Homo sapiens: one gene and its partners. The protein of the gene in region 4 interacts with the protein of the main gene of each other region in a biochemical or structural test. Each region holds a gene or a part of one and is shown on either strand. Other genes may lie near its edges.

What was found. The genes of interacting proteins can lie anywhere in the genome.
Region 1: the proteins of MAP3K7 (region 4) and NAIP form a complex in vitro, tested with the Homo sapiens proteins (one study listed by BioGRID).
Region 2: the proteins of MAP3K7 (region 4) and SUPT20H form a complex in vitro, tested with the Homo sapiens proteins (one large-scale study listed by BioGRID).
Region 3: the proteins of MAP3K7 (region 4) and MUL1 form a complex in vitro, tested with the Homo sapiens proteins (one study listed by BioGRID).

The regions. Positions count from the first base shown.
Region 1 is NC_000005.10:71,015,340-71,018,839, forward strand, and holds part of NAIP (baculoviral IAP repeat-containing protein 1), read right to left. Parts: intron 1-3,500. UniProt on the Homo sapiens protein: Anti-apoptotic protein which acts by inhibiting the activities of CASP3, CASP7 and CASP9. Can inhibit the autocleavage of pro-CASP9 and cleavage of pro-CASP3 by CASP9.
Region 2 is NC_000013.11:37,049,689-37,053,188, forward strand, and holds part of SUPT20H (transcription factor SPT20 homolog), read right to left. Parts: intron 1,896-3,500; 5' UTR 1,803-1,895; coding exon 1,800-1,802; intron 1-1,799. UniProt on the Homo sapiens protein: Required for MAP kinase p38 (MAPK11, MAPK12, MAPK13 and/or MAPK14) activation during gastrulation.
Region 3 is NC_000001.11:20,505,352-20,509,367, reverse strand, and holds the start of MUL1 (mitochondrial ubiquitin ligase activator of NFKB 1), read left to right. Parts: upstream 1-1,216; 5' UTR 1,217-1,343; coding exon 1,344-1,463; exon of another isoform or gene 1,464-1,841; coding exon of another isoform or gene 1,842-1,844; intron 1,845-4,016. UniProt on the Homo sapiens protein: Exhibits weak E3 ubiquitin-protein ligase activity. E3 ubiquitin ligases accept ubiquitin from an E2 ubiquitin-conjugating enzyme in the form of a thioester and then directly transfer the ubiquitin to targeted substrates.
Region 4 is NC_000006.12:90,541,510-90,546,463, forward strand, and holds part of MAP3K7 (mitogen-activated protein kinase kinase kinase 7), read right to left. Parts: intron 3,124-4,954; coding exon 3,043-3,123; intron 1-3,042. UniProt on the Homo sapiens protein: Serine/threonine kinase which acts as an essential component of the MAP kinase signal transduction pathway. Plays an important role in the cascades of cellular responses evoked by changes in the environment.

The DNA of each region.
Region 1 (3,500 bases), on a different chromosome or scaffold from region 4:
CTCACTGTACATTTCATGAAATCTCTTTCCTCAACAGCATCCCCATTCAGATGTCACATCCATTCCGATAATATATCAGGGAGAGATGATAACAATTATGCAATTATATTGCATAATTGAATTATATTGAAATATAATCCATCGGGAGCAGTGGCTCATGCCTGTAATCTCAGCACTTTAGGAGGCCGAGGTGGGTGGATCACCTGAGGTCAGGAGTTTGAGACCAGCCTGGCCAACATGGCAAAACCCCATCTCTACTAAAAATACAAAAAAAAAAAAAAAAAGAAATTAGTCAGGTGTGGTGGCACGTGCTTGTAGTCCCAGCTAGTTGGGGCTGGCTGTGGTGGCTTACACCTATAATCCCAGCACTTTGGGGGGCTGAGGCCAGGAGTTCAAGACTAGCCTTGCCAACATGGTGAAACCCCATCTCTACTAATAATACAAAAAAAATAGCTGGGCATGGTGGCGCATGCCTATAATCTCAGCTACTCGGGAGGCTGAGGCAGGAGAATTGCTTGAACCCACGAGGCAGAGGTTGCAGTGAGCCGAGATCGCACCACTGCACTCCAGCCTAGGCGACAAGAGTGAAACTCCATCTCAAAAAAAGAGAAAGAAATATAATTCACACATCATAAAATTCACCCATTTAAAATGAACAACTGAGGGTGCGGTGACTCATACCTATAACCCCAATGCTCTTGAGGCCAAGGCGGGAGGATTGCTTGAGACCAGGAGTTGAGATCAGCCTGGGCAACATAGCTAGACCCTGTCTCTAAAAAAACTTTTTTTTTAAGAAAACGAAAACTTAGCGGGGCATGGTGGCATGTGCCTGTAGTCCTAACTACGTGGGAGGCTGAGGTGGAAGGATCTCTTGAGCCCAGGAATATGAAGCTGCGGGGAGCTATGATTGCAGTACTATACTCCAGCCTGGACAACAGAGTGAGGCTCTGTCTCTAAAAAAAGTAAATAAAATGTACAGTTCAATAAATATCAGCATATTCATAAACATGCACAACCACCACCACAATCAATTTTAGAACATTTTCATCCCCCCAGAAAGAAACGCTGTGCCCATTAGCAGTTGCTTTCCATGTCCCCCATTACCCTCCTAGCCCTAGGCAACTACTATGTTACTTTCTGTCTCTATAGATTTGCCTACTGGGGACATTTCATTTAAATTGAATCATACAGTACGTGGTCCTTTGTGTCTGGTTGCTTTCACTTTGCAAAATGTTCATGTTGGTAGAGGTGCTTAAAAAATAAAATAAAAAGAACAACAAAAAAAGGAAGCGAAATTCATCCATGTTGTATTGTTTTAGTACTTCATATTCCTTTTCATTGTCAAATAATATTTCATTATGTGGATATACCACACTTTATTATCACATATACCATATTTTATTCCTCAACCCAGTTGATGGATGTGTGGATTGTTTACGCTTTTTGGCTATTATAAATAATACCGCTGTGCACATTAGTGTGCAAGTTTTTATATGGACATTTTTCACTTTTTTTTTTTCTTGAGACAGGGTCTTGCTCTGTCACCTAGGCTGGAGTGCAGTGGCTTGATCACCATCCATTGCAGCCTCAACCTCAAGGGCTGAAGCGATCCTCCCACCTCAGCTTCCCAAGCAGCTCGTACGACAGGAGCACACCACCATTTTTTATAGAGACAAGCGTGTTGGGGGTGTTGGTGGGGGGGGTCTCACTATGTTGCCAAGTTGGTCTCAAACCCCTGGGCTCAAGTGATCCTCCCACCTCAGCCTCCTAAAGTGCTGGGATTACAGGCCTGAGCCACCACACCTGGCCCATTTTTCACTCTTAAACTTACAGTTGTATTGTCATACTAAACTAAGTTAATTGCTGTTTAATTTTTTATTAGCAGGTATAACAATACATTATGCACCATGGTCCAACAATGACAATAAAGTTTTTCACCACTCCGGGCATTTTATCCACACCAATGTAAATGTCCTTGGGTCCCATAGCACCAAGAGACTCTGCCACCCTTTTCTTTACATCACACTGCTTTAAAGTGACTGTAGATTCTGCTTTTGCATCATCCTAAAGGTTTATTTGTTTAATTCATCAAGACTAGGATACATTAGAAATCTTGACTGGGCACAGTGGCTCACACCTGTAATCCCAGCACTTTGGGAGGCTAAGGTGGGAGGATTGCTTGAGCCCAGGAATTTGAAACCAGCCTGGGCAACAAAGTGAGATGGAGTCTTGCTCTGTTCACCCAGGCTGGAGTGCAGTGGCAAAATTTTGACTCACCGCAACCTCTGCTTCCCAGGTTCAAGCAATTCTCCTGCCTCAGCCTCCTGAGTAGCTGGGATTACAGGCATGTGCCACCATGCCCGGCTAATTTTTTTATTTTTAGTAGAGACAGGGTTTCACCATGTTGGCCAGGCTGGTTTCGAACTCCTGACCTCAGGTGATCCACCCGCCTCGGCCTCCCAATGTGCTAGGATTACAGGTGTGAGCCACCATGCCCAGCCCTTTCCTTTTTTTTTTTTTTTTTTTTATAGGAGACAAGGGCTCACTCTGTTGCCAAGGCTGTAGTACAAGTGCAGTGGCATGATTCTAGCTCACTGCAGCCTCAGATTCCTGGGCTTAAGCAATCCTCTTGCCTCAGCCTCTCAAAGTGCTGGGATTACAGGTGTAAGCCAGGACACCCGGCCTCCTTTCTTTTGAATGATATTAATCTGTTCATCATTCAGCACAATTTGGAGCAAAGGAACTAGTAAGTCTTCAACAGGCTTTCACTTCATCCTGCTCCCCCAGTAGTAGGGTCATACAAAAAGTCTACGAAGGTAGAGGCCCTCTTATCACAGCAACAATCATCACTTAAGTCAAAGACATAAAATTAAGGGATACCTTAGTTTCATCACAGAACCAGTCCAAATGTGTTTGTTTGCATTCTCAACATTTCAGTAACCTCTAGGGAGTATTTCTTCTAACAATTATGGGTGGAATTGGGCAGTTCCCCTTTACAAGATATGTTTTATGTACTGCCACCTTTGTGCAGCTCAACCGATTTGGAATTTGCCCAGCTAAACACATTCCGGCAAAAGCTGCAGCTAATTGAAGATCTTCAACGAATTCAGCTAATTAAGACCAAACACACCCTTTCATTTGAAGGTACATTTGACAGTACCTAATACAAGGAAAAGAGCTCCTTTGTCATTCATGTATATCCAACCCAGCAGTGGTTCTGCAGGAAGCTCTGTCAGTCCACAGGCAACTTCACTCTTGTGTAGTTCCCTGTTTCAGTTGTCTCTTGATGCCCTCCCACTGTAGTTTCGTTGGTGATTATCTACCCGATGAGGGTCACATTCCCATCAGAAGAAATATCTGCCCAACTCCTCTTTGGCATCATGTTCCTTCCCTTTACAGAAGGAAATTGGTGGACTTGGCAACACAGGCTCTTTTTTAGTTACTTTCATTTTTGCCAAAGCAGCCTAACCAGCCAGGGAACTGTATTCTTGGCTGACTTC
Region 2 (3,500 bases), on a different chromosome or scaffold from region 4:
AGATCGTGCTATTGTACTACAGTCTGGGCAAAAAGGGCAAAACTCCATCTCAAAAAAAACAAAAACAACAAACAAATAAAACAAAACCCAAATATACCACCAGTGGTTTTCTTTCTAGTTTTCTGTTTTATAGTCTTTTTCATTCATAATGATAGTCATTTTTAAATTTTATTAAGAGGCACAGAACTTTCAGTTTTTATTTAAAAGGACTTAAATTCTTCTGTCTTATTTTGCAGATTCCAATACCTCAACCTACCAAATTGCATGTGGGTAAAAACTCCTACCACCCACCAAAGTCCCAGGAGGGTAAGGGGGAAAAACAAATACTGCCACCCTTTGGAAATCATGGGAACTTTTAAGTGACCACCTAGTCCTAAGGATGGAGAATTTGTATAATTCCAAAAATAGTGGGCCTTCTTGCACTGTTCAATAAAAAACCCACATTATCAAATATCTAAATATGATAAGTGAACAAAGTCTGAAATCTGCCATCTTTTCAAAACGTTCAGTTATAATAAATCTACACTAATTTGCTTTGTTAAAAAATCTTGGCCAGGCACTGTGGCACATGCCTGTAATTCCAAAGCTTTGGGAGGCCAAGGTGGGAAATCAGGAGTTCAAGACCAGCCTGGACAATATAGTGAGATTCTGTCACTACCAAAAAAAAAAAAAAAAAAAAAAACTTATAAGAAGCGGATTCCCAATGAAACTGGTTCCCAGGATTCAAGTTAAGATTCCTGACTCCCATTTTCCCTGATCCCATGTTCCACCATGAAAACATAATTCTGTACATATACACTTCACAAATACAGAAGGTTCTTTTAAATTTTGCCCATAAAATTTGTTTGTATCAAAAAATTATAATAAACAAAATCAAATATATATAGTCTAGGACAATTTTAAACAGCCAGTCATCTCAAGTAAATATTTCATCTTCTGAAATTAAAACTTCAAAGGGTCTAGTGAGACATGCATACATACATAAATAAAAGCATCATTCATTCATTATCTCCTTCAAAAACTTAAGAGGAAAATGATTAGGTAATATAGATGCAAAATACAAGGTGTTGTCAGAACCCCACTGTGATACTTCTACTTTTCTCTAATAGGGGAGGAGTAGATAGGCAAGAACCAAGAGGAGAAGGAAGACAGATGTTTTCTGAAGTTTGTGACGCAGAATAGGGGTTATCTAAATAAATAACATGGTGGTCAATGTTCATTTATTCTCTGTCAAATGCTGCTGCTTCTTTAAAACATTAAAAAGTGTTTTTCTCCCTTAGTCTGTCATTTCTTAATGGCAAAAGTTAAATGCCTACTCCTAACTATGTTTAGTGACTGTAAGTCAGTGAACAGAAATGTGCCATTAGAAGATTAGCACTGATGCTGCCTGAAATACGTTATATGCAGTTAGCAGGTTACATTTGTTTTTAAATTTTAATAAAATCTAAAGAAAAGCTTTAAAATACGAGAAATCTATACTCCCCAAAACTATTTGTATTTATACCCATCCTCCTTGCCAACGATTTGGAATATGGCAAAGTAGATATAGGTAAATATTTTTAATACTTCATAAATACAAGCACAGATAGATGGATGAATGTGATCACTGTAACACTGATTAGTGAGCAATATACTTTATAGAGAAGACTTTGCAATGGGATTGCTAAGTAATTTCCCAGTTGGGATAACCTGTACAGCTTACAAGAGTATTTCTATATCTACCATACAAATATCTTTATGAAGATGAAGGAAGAGAACATTCTAAAACACAAATTTGAACATACTGAGCTGAAGCTTACCATTATGGCATAAAATAAGGGTCCAAAAGAAGAGATAACTTATGTACGCTGATGAAGTGGGGTGAACACCATGCCTTTAACATCAATCTTACAGTACTGAAAAGCAAAAACAATAAAACCCCAATATTAACATAAGGCTATTAAGAGAAAAAAAAAGAGATTACATATTTCATAATTAACAAGGAAAATTACTTATATTTTTAAGACATACATATTTTTAAGACACTTTTTAATAATGAGTAACAATAAAATTCATGTACCACAACCTATCCACTCACTGCTGAAAAGTAGTTTCAACTAGGAAAGGCAAAACACACTTGCCAAGTTACAATTATTACTCCTTTTCTCAAAAATACTTAACATCTCCAGAGAGAAAAAAAATACATTTTTTAAAATCTCTTCTCTATCACTACTGTTGCTATTCTCATTTTTCCTTTGAATTATTTTAATAGCTTGCCCACTGGGCTTGATCACTATCCAGTTCACTTTACAAATCACAGATATAATCATGTCTGCTGATAAAAAATCCTCTTATTAATAAGAGAGGACACAAACAAATAGAAAAAAAATCCATGCTCATGGATAGGAAGAATCAATATTGTGAAAATGGCCATATTGCCCTAAGTACTCGTAGATTCAATGCTATTACCATCAAGCTACCATTAACTTTCTTCACAAAACTAGGAAATACTACTTTAAATTTCATGTGGAACCAAAAAAGAGCCTGTATAGCCAAGACAATCCTAAGCAAAAAGAACAAAGCTGGAGGCATCATGCTGTCTGACTTCAAACTATACAATGCTACAGTAACCAAAACAGCATGCTACTGGTACCAAAACAGATATACAGACCAACAGAACAGAGGCCTCAGAAATAACACCACACATCTACAACCATCTAATCTTTGACAAACCTGACAAAAACAAGCAATGGGGAGAGGATTCCCTATCTAATAAATGGCCCTGGGAAGACTGGCTAGCCACATGCAGAAAACAGAAATTGGACCCCTTTCTTACACCTTAACAAAAATTAACTCAAGATGGAATAAAGACTTACAACATAAAACCATAAAACCATAAACCATAAAAACCCTAGAAGAAAACCTAGGCAATACCATTCAGGACATAGGCATGGGCAAAGACTTCATGACTAAAGCACCAAAAGCAATTGCAACAAAAGCCAAAATTGACAAATGGGATCTAATTAAACTAAAGAGCTTCTGCTCAGCAAAAGAAACTATCATCAGAGTGAACAGGCAACCTACAGAATGGGCGATAATTTTTTGCAATCTATCCTTCTGACAAAGGTCTAATACCCAGAATCTACAAAGAACTTAAATTTAGAAGAAAAAAACAACCCCATCAAAAAGTGGGTGAAGGATATGAACGGACACTTCTCAAAAGAAGACATTTATGCGGCCAACATATGAAAAAAAGCTCATTATCACTGGTCATTAGAGAAATGCAAATCAAAACCACAATGAAATACCATCTCACACCAGTTAGAATGGCAGTCATTAAAAAGTCTGGAAACAGATGTTGGTGAGGCTGCAGAGAAACAGGAACACTTTTACACTGTTGGTGGTAGTGTAAATTAGTTCAACCATTGTGGAAGACGGTGTGGCAATTCCTCAAGGATCTAGAACCAGAAATACTGTTTGACCCAGCAATCCCATTACTGGGTATATACCAAAGGATTATA
Region 3 (4,016 bases), on a different chromosome or scaffold from region 4:
ATGTAAACATGAAAATACAAGAATTTAGGCTTGGTGTGGTGACTCACGCCTGTAATCCCAGCACTTTGGGAAGGCAAGTCAGGAGGATCACTTGAGCCCAGGAGTTCCAGACCAGCATGGCCAACATAGTGAGACCTTGACTCTACAAAAAATTTTTTAAAAAATTAGCCGGGGGTGGCATGCATCTTTAGTCCTAACTACTGGGGAGGCTGAGGTGGGAGGATTGCGGGGTGGGAGGCTGCAGGGAGCTATGATTGCACCACTGCACTCCAGCCTGGGCGACAGAGCAAGACCCTGTCTCAAACAAATAAAAAAATTAAAGCATAACCTGTAGGAGATAGCTCAATGAATGCTGATGTTTAGAAGAAAGATTTGGGTTATCTCCGATTATTTTAGAAAGGAGATGCATTACAGAGATCAGGGAACAGTCTCTGAGAAGGATCCCCTGGGTTTTATGGCCATACCTATTGCTTTTAGCTGTATAACCTTGAGCAAGTTACTTACCTGAGCCTCAGTTTCTTTATCGGTAATCTGCATTATAGCTGTGTTGTGAAGGTTCAGTGGGATGGTGCCTGCAAAACCTCCCCCGCCTCGAACCTGACACATAATAGGCACTAAGCGTAGCCGTAATTATTATTTAATAAATATGTTGTTCTATGTGGTGATGGCAGATTAAGGGGCTACTTTGGTGATATAATCTGCCCTCCTGGGGTAGAGTTGAGGGCTTTGGAGTTGGGTGAATTCCTCTCTAGCACTCACTAGACTTCGAGCACATCATTCCCTAACCTCTATGGCCTCACTTTTCTCATCTGTAAAGTGGCCAGAATAAATTCCAAGTCTTGAGAGTTTGCTCTGAAACTTAAACGTATATTACTCATAAGAGTTTAATACACAATTATTTTATTTCCTGCCAATCTAATGGCGAAGACATGGAATAACCCATCAAACAGCCCAGTAACCCCAGGAAACCAGAGGGACGGAAACCAGGGCGATGGGCGAGTCAGTCATGGCCAGTGCGCCGTGTTTCGAAGGGGACGGCCATGGAGCGGTGGGTGGTCGCTCAGCTCCCCAATCGCTCTCCGACACCCGGCTGGGGAGACAGGACCTCCCTGGAGGCCGCAGCAGCTTGATTGTCACCCGGGCAACCCCACCTTCCGGTTCCCTCTACAACCCCTTGCCCCGCTTCCGGTTCCGGCGTCGTGCGTCATCGCTGGGCGACTGATTTCGAGTTTCCGGTCAGGTTAGGCCGGGGGGGTGCGGTCCTGGTCGGAAGGAGGTGGAGAGTCGGGGGTCACCAGGCCTATCCTTGGCGCCACAGTCGGCCACCGGGGCTCGCCGCCGTCATGGAGAGCGGAGGGCGGCCCTCGCTGTGCCAGTTCATCCTCCTGGGCACCACCTCTGTGGTCACCGCCGCCCTGTACTCCGTGTACCGGCAGAAGGCCCGGGTCTCCCAAGAGCTCAAGGTCAGTGCTGGAGCCGGCCTGGCCTCAGCCGGGTCATCTCTGTCCCAGGTGCTGGGGAGCCCATGATTCACCTTGGCCGCCCCACCGTCGGAAACTGTCCAAAAAAGGAAACAGCCTCTGAAGGGTGTCATCCAGCCAGTAGATGGAGGAGCGAGGGGCAGGATTCGGGCTCGGGATAACGGCTGCTCCGCTCCTTTTCTCCCAAGTCCCTCTTATGACTCAGAATGAATCTTGACTTCATTACTTTACTCGAAAAATATTTATTGAACACCTGCGATGCTCCAGGCAGTGAGTCGAACAGATGAAAGTCCATCCCCTCGTGGAGATACCATTTTAGTACGACTAGACAGCAAACATGTAAATCAGGCGGTGTAACAGATGGTGAGCAATGCTTTAGAGTAAGGTAGGGGAGAGAGGACATGGAATGCTGGAGAAAGGGGGATCTCCTATCTTAAATAAGGTGACATTTGAGCAGAGCCTAGGAGGAGATGAGGGGAGTCATGCAGATATCTAGCGGGAGATGGAAGGAACAGCAAGTGCAGACATCCATTTACTGAACCACTCCACTCCTTGCTTTACAGACGCTTCCTTTTTATATTACAACTATTTTTATAAATGGCGCTTTTTTCTGAACTGTGCTTTACGGTTTACACAACACATTTGCATTTATTTTTATTTTTTATTTTTTCGAGATGGAGTCTTGCTGTGTCGCCCAGGCTGGAGTGCAGTGGCGGGATCTGGGCTCACTGCAGCCCCTGCCTCCCGGGTTCAAGTGATTCTCCTGCTTCAGCCTCCCGAGTAGCTGGGATTACCACGCCCAGCTAACTTTTTTGTATTTTAGTAGACACAGGGTTTCACCATGTTGGCCAGGCTGGTCTCCAGCTCCTGACGTCGGGTGATCTCCCCGCCTCGGCTCTCCGAAGCGTTGGGATGTAAAGGCGTGAGCCACTGCGCCCAGCCACATTTTCATCTTGATTTTATTTTTTTCTTAACAATAATTTTTTTTCCTTTCTTTCCTCTCCTTTTCTTTTCTTTTTCTTTTTCTTTTTTTTTTTGAGACGGAGTCTCGCTCTGTTGCCCAGGCTGGAGTGCAATGGCACGATCTTGGCTCACTGCAACCTCTGCCTCCCGCGTTCAAGTGATTTTCCTGCCTCAGCCTCCGGAGTAGCTGGGATTACAGGTACCTGCCACCACGCCTGGCTAATTTTTGTATTTTTAGTAGAGATGGGGTTTTGCCATGTTGGCCAGGCTGGTCTCCAACTCCTGACTTCAGGTGATCCCTCTGTCTCAGCCTCCCAAAGTGCTGGGATTACAGGCGTGAGCCACTGCGCCTGGCCCACAATAATTTTTTGAAGTAAATAAAATGACAGTTACCACCACATTGCAAATCAGAAAATTGAGATTTGGAGGAAAGGCCATACAGCTAGTCAGCTTGAAACTTAAATTTAGGTCTTTTGATTCCAAGGGTAGGATTTTAATCTGATTGACATTGCTTTATTGTGACTATCTGACTGGTCCAGAGAGATGGACCTCTTTAGGTCAGAGACAGGGTCTTATTCATCCATTCTCTTTCCTCTAGCTTCTAACACAGTACTTGGCAAGTGGTAGATGCTCAGTAAATGTTTGTGGGTTCTTTTTGGCTGAAGTTTCACAATACAAGAGCTAAGGGCCTAACCTAATTTGATGTTTATATGAAAGATGGATTCCTAAACCTGACTAACTTAATTATCAGATTGTTTTCAGTAAGGGTTTAGAAACTAATGTGTGGGCCAGGCTACTCCAGCCTGGGTGACAAGAGCAGGACTCCATCTCAGAAAAAAAAGAAACCAATGTGTGAACTCCAGTCCCTGCCATGAAGGGAGTTTTGGAATCTGGAAAGAACCAAGTTATGAGGCAATTGGATTTGCTGTGCAGTGGCGTTATAGTGAGATTCCAGCTGCCCTGTATTTCTCCTGATTAAATAATCAAGTTAATCCTGAAGTGATTAGCTCTGTGTATCTGATACTTCACTTTCTGACTCCAAACCACTTTGGCCTCAAGTTGGCTGGAGGAGGGCTTCTTTGAAGCAGTGAACTCTTTAGGTCTCATCTTTGGGTGACCTTAAAACCTTTGCCAAACAGTTCCTAAATGAGGATGAAATAGCCCCTTCCTGGAAAAAAAGTTGGGACTGTTAATATTTTAGATTCTATTTTCTATTTCCTTCCTCTCTTTCTCCCTCCCTTCCTTCCTTTTCTTTCTCTTTGGCCTTCCTTCCTGTCCTTCATTTCTTTCTTCTTTCTTTTTTTCTTTTTCCTCTTCTTTTTTTTTTTTTTTTTTTTTTTTGAGACATGGTCTTACTCTGTTGCCCAGGCTGGAGTGCAGTGGCACAAACATAGCTCATTGCAGCCTCGAGCTCCCAGGCCCATGCCAGTCTCCTGCCTCAGCCTCCTAAGTAGCTAGGACTACAGGTGCACACCACCACCTCCAGCTAATTTTTTATTTTTCATAGAGATGGGGTCTTGCATGTTGCTCATGCTAGTTTTGCACTGCTGGCCTCAAGCAGCTATCCCACTT
Region 4 (4,954 bases):
CTCACTCTTTTAAGGGCAGATGGACAGTGGAAAGAAGGAAGGGTTACCGTACAAAAGTTTGTCAGTTCTTCAGAGCCAGTAATATGGTAGAAGAGGTATAAAAAATTGTACAGTCTGACCCACAGGGAGTCCTAAGGTATTAAAGGTTAATTTCTGTATGATCTGAGAGACTACTAAATTGATAAATAGTGCTGTTTTGCTAAGTTGCTTTTTCTTCCACATTTGACTGATGGCATAGTATACACATTTTGAAGAGCGAGCAAAAAACAAGATTACAAGATTAGGGTCTTTGCATTTCTTTACCTATGACTAGGTTAGACATTTTAGTGACTTTAAAGATATATATACAAAACCTTTTTTGTGATGCTTGAAGGATTGCTCTTATTAAGAGAGGTAGTTCATTCCAAGAAGTACATTAGACTCAGTACATTGCACTTGGCCAAAGGGAAGTATTAACGAAACTCTTATCCATGTAAATAAGATCTTTAAAAAGCTATATTTAAAAAGAATCCTTGCAATTGGGTTTTAATGCTAATTAAACAGTTTGAATATATCAAGAAGTATTTGCTAATACCATAAAGCTTGTGGGAAATCCACTTAGAACAAAACAATTTCTAGAAAGTATTAAGAAATTTTGGAAATTAAGTATCACCCTTCTTTACAATTAAAATGTCATGTAGGAAATTTGAGATATTCCCAAAGGATGGGCGGTATTTTTATATTTAATTTAAAAACATTACCTATGAGCACATTCATGATTGGCTTTTATGTCCACTAGTGTCAATTCTACAGCTTGTATTCTTCTATTAAAGAAAGTGCACCTGAGTAAGTTAATGTTTGATATCTGAGGGGGGAAAAGCCTAAAAAGAATATTTAATAAAAGGTATTACTGAATAATATTTTCATATGAATAGCACTGCTGCTCTGGCAATTAAGAGAATTAAGGTTACCTGATTCCATAAAGGCCCAATGTCATAAAAGAGGATCTCCCTGGCTGAAGAGCTCTCCTTAATGTGAACACTAAGAGAAAGCAAGAAGAAATTACTCTAGCTTCTCTGACTTAAACAAAAGAACAAAAAATGGATGTGACTTGGAGTCAGAAGATCTGGGTTGGGGTCCTGGCTATATGATTCTGGAAAAACCACTAAACATCATCAGATCTAAGTTCTTCGTCTGTTAAACAGCTATAATTTCATCCGATAACCTAGTTGTAAGATTGTATAAAGGTAAAATAAGATGTACTTTAAGCTACTTTGTAGGGCACAAAGAACATCTAATCAGGGGTTTTCAGCCTCAGCACTGCTGCCATTTTGGGCTGGATCATTCTTTGTTGGAGAAGACTGCCTGGTACACATCAGGATGTTTAGCAGCATCCCTGGTCTCTGCCCACTAGATGCCAGTAGTACCTGACAGTTATAAACTATTATTCTTTCCTTATTTTTCCCTCCCCCATTATCTTGTATAGCGTGGGCTACGCTGCCATATATAAATTTATTCTTAATGCTTAGTCATAAGATTACACTGCCATCTGTCTAAATTTTCCTGATTCCCTCAAACATTTAAGGGAAGCACAGTTCAGCGGTATGTAAGTTTAAATGCTTCCACCTCTTTAAAGTACGTCCCTTATACACAGTACCTTTCCGCATGGAGGTAAACTGATCTCCATGTAAAATGATCTCTTTGTTAATTTCTGAAGCAGTCCAGATTCAATAAATAAAAATTACCATGTGAAAAATGGGTTAACTCTACTCTTTGAATAGCAATAGTAATGATGTTGTAAAATAAGAAACCACTTTGATAACCAGGGGAAAATTAATATAAGATAGTTTTATACAGACAAAATGGCACCTAAGAATAGTATAATTCATATTTTTGTATGCTAGTTTCTCACCAGGGGAGATGCTCAATAGGTCTGTTCATTTATTTAATAAATGTATTTATTAAACACTATGTTAATATGCTTAATATGTGAAGCACTGAGCCAGCAACTGCTGATACAATCAATAATAAGCAACAACAACAAAATAATGCACAAAGATATGGATTCTATCCTTACATAGTTTTCAGTTTAGTAGAGGAGAAAATAACCATTAGGTATTCAACTAGAATTATCAACACTGCTAAAAACACAATCACAGGCAAAGGACAGCATGCTGAAGAATTCATCCAACTCGCACTCATGAACGTGTGTGGAAAATATGTATTTCCTTATCAAGATTTTGGGTAAAGAGGTAGAGAAAAGCCTAAAGGGATAAATAAATGATAATTTTGATAATACATTAATCAATACTGAAGGTCAATATGCCATTTAAGTTTCTATTAAAAATGGTAACATATTCCTCTATGAAATGATCACCATAAGAAATAAAGCAGTTTACCAATTTTAGACACTAAAGTACCATGTGTAAGTTAGGTATAAAAACATGTAATTTATGAGATTCTCCTGATAATACACAAAAATCAGAATTGACCAACTATTTTACATGATTCTTTGGCAAGATACCCTGCAAAACAGCACATCTCATTTAGCTTTACTTTTTGTTTTCCAGGTTAAGGCAAAATGCTATTTAGCAACTCTCTTCTCTCAACTTCACATTCACTTGCTACCAACAGAAAGAGGTTAGGACAGAAAGTCTAGAGGGGACCCAAAAAGCAGTAACTGAGGAAGGAAAGGAGCCAAGGAAAATAACAAATTTTAATTAGTTGTTTCCTCTTTCTGTTGGGTGCAAAAAAGGTCTGGGTTTAGCTCATGTGCTCACTTAAAAGTAGAGAGGAAGTTGGTAGAATTCTGGGTTGGTGTTCTCCCTTCTCCAAAAAGGTTTACTTTCTCTTCTATTTTATCCTCACTTATTGTAGATCAGAGGTATCTTTTCAAGACTGCTTCAGAATAAATGTAGTTTTTCAATCTGTCTCCCTAATTACTGCATGCAAGGTATCCATTTTCATGTCTTGTAAAAATTGGAGCAAGAAGCATTTTACAAGTACCAGGGATCATTATTCCGGTTCCACAGCTATTAGACCAACTCAGGTGGTCTATGATACCTGATATGACGATCTCAGGGACATCCAGAATGTTGCCAAATGAAGCAGTTTTACGGTGGCCCCGTTTAGGCTTGGAATAGGCTGCAAAAACACATATATACAGTATACATGCAAACAACCACAAACAGTAACACGGAAAATGATTAACTACAAAAATAGACTCATTTTCAAATAGTTCATGTTAATAACATTTCATGCAGAATGGCATGCAGAACTACCTAACTTTTCATCCATGCTCAGAAAAGGCGAGATTAAAGAGCAAACAACTACCAAATACAAGATGTTTTACACACTGGTTTTAATTAGCAGAAAAAAATAAAAAGAACAGAGACAAAGCTGCAGGGTAATGAGGAAGCAAAATTTCAAATATATTCATAGAAACAGTCTACCTAAGTGAAATCACTGATCTGTGATGGGGGTGGGGGAACGAAGGAGGAGAGGAAGAAAGGCGTTAAAAAGTAAGTTGTCGTATTTGTTTTAATTACACAAACACAGGAATACATGTTCAAGTTAGGTGTTTCTTGAAGTGTGCTATAAAGTAAAATCCAATGATTAAATAATAATTATTGAATCAAAGTGTGAAATGTATATGCTTTTGTAGTCATACTTATACATATTTCTAGTACCAAATATTTATTATATTTTCCAAAGTTTAGGGTACATTCACAGTAAACACAAAGTCTGTCAAAAGGCTGGAAAGTATGACTCTTTCCAAGTAAGACAATTCATGAAAAAATTTAAATTGTGTAAAACTCAAGGGATGTACAATAGCATTTGTTCTACACTTAGGCAAAATTTTAATGTGTGTGGTTATCCTTCTAGCAAAGTCATTTCTGTAAATAATAATAAAAAACCAGTGCTTGACTAGAAATATGATACTAGCGAAGACATGAAACCATTATTATAACAATTTTCAGTTTTGAGACAGCAATTAGTATGTGGCAGATCTATCCTGAACAACATCCCTGAAGTGAAAAGGGTTCCTCAAAGCATGAGGGTATGTCCCGGTGAGTAGGGTTCATCTGACACTACAGTGAGACAACCCTGCTCCAAAGAAATACTTGTGACTCATGGAGACTCATGGGCTTGTCAGTGGCTGGTGACTTCTACTCAACTTGATAGTTTCTGAAGACCCATCTGTGGCAGACACAGCTATCTTCTGCCAGTTTCCACTCTTCCCTTCTGTTTTAGCAATAGTACTCTGATTTTATTTAGGACAGAAAAGTCATCAGATAAAAGAGGGCAGATCTCCTCTTCCCTTGGAGCTACGTGTAGCCATTCGACCATGTTACTTTGACCAATGATGTGTGGATGTTGTTAAGAGAGGCATCTGGGAATGTTCCTTCAAAGAACTTGGATGTCTATTTGCCCTGCCCCCATGTCTTCCTTCCTATTGCCTGGAATGTAGAAGTGATGAAATGGAACTTCAACAGCCATTTTGGAGCACAGGATAACTTTGAGAATGGAAGCTATACAGTAGGGATTACAGCACAGAAATAGGAGACCAGTTACTTCAAGATCACAGAGCCCACTACCTCCAGACTTGTTTATATGTGAAAAATAATGCTTATGTGTTATAGACACTGTTATTTCGGATATTCTGTTATATCTAATGGATTCTAATAGTAGCTGATAAAATCAATGATCATGATTAGTTGAAGACAAGTATAGTATGATGGTCCATCTTGACAACTTCTTTCTGAAAAGAGCTCCACACACAATGAGAATATTCTATTTAGAAAAAAACCAAATAAGTGAAAAAAAGACCTAAAAAATTGGTTAGCTAAGTTAAAAAAGATGCAAATACACATGAATATATACATTTATACACATACATAGTTAAAAGATGGGGTAAATACACAAAAATGTTAAGTGTTTATCTCTGAGTGGGGTAATTATGTAAGTTTTTTTG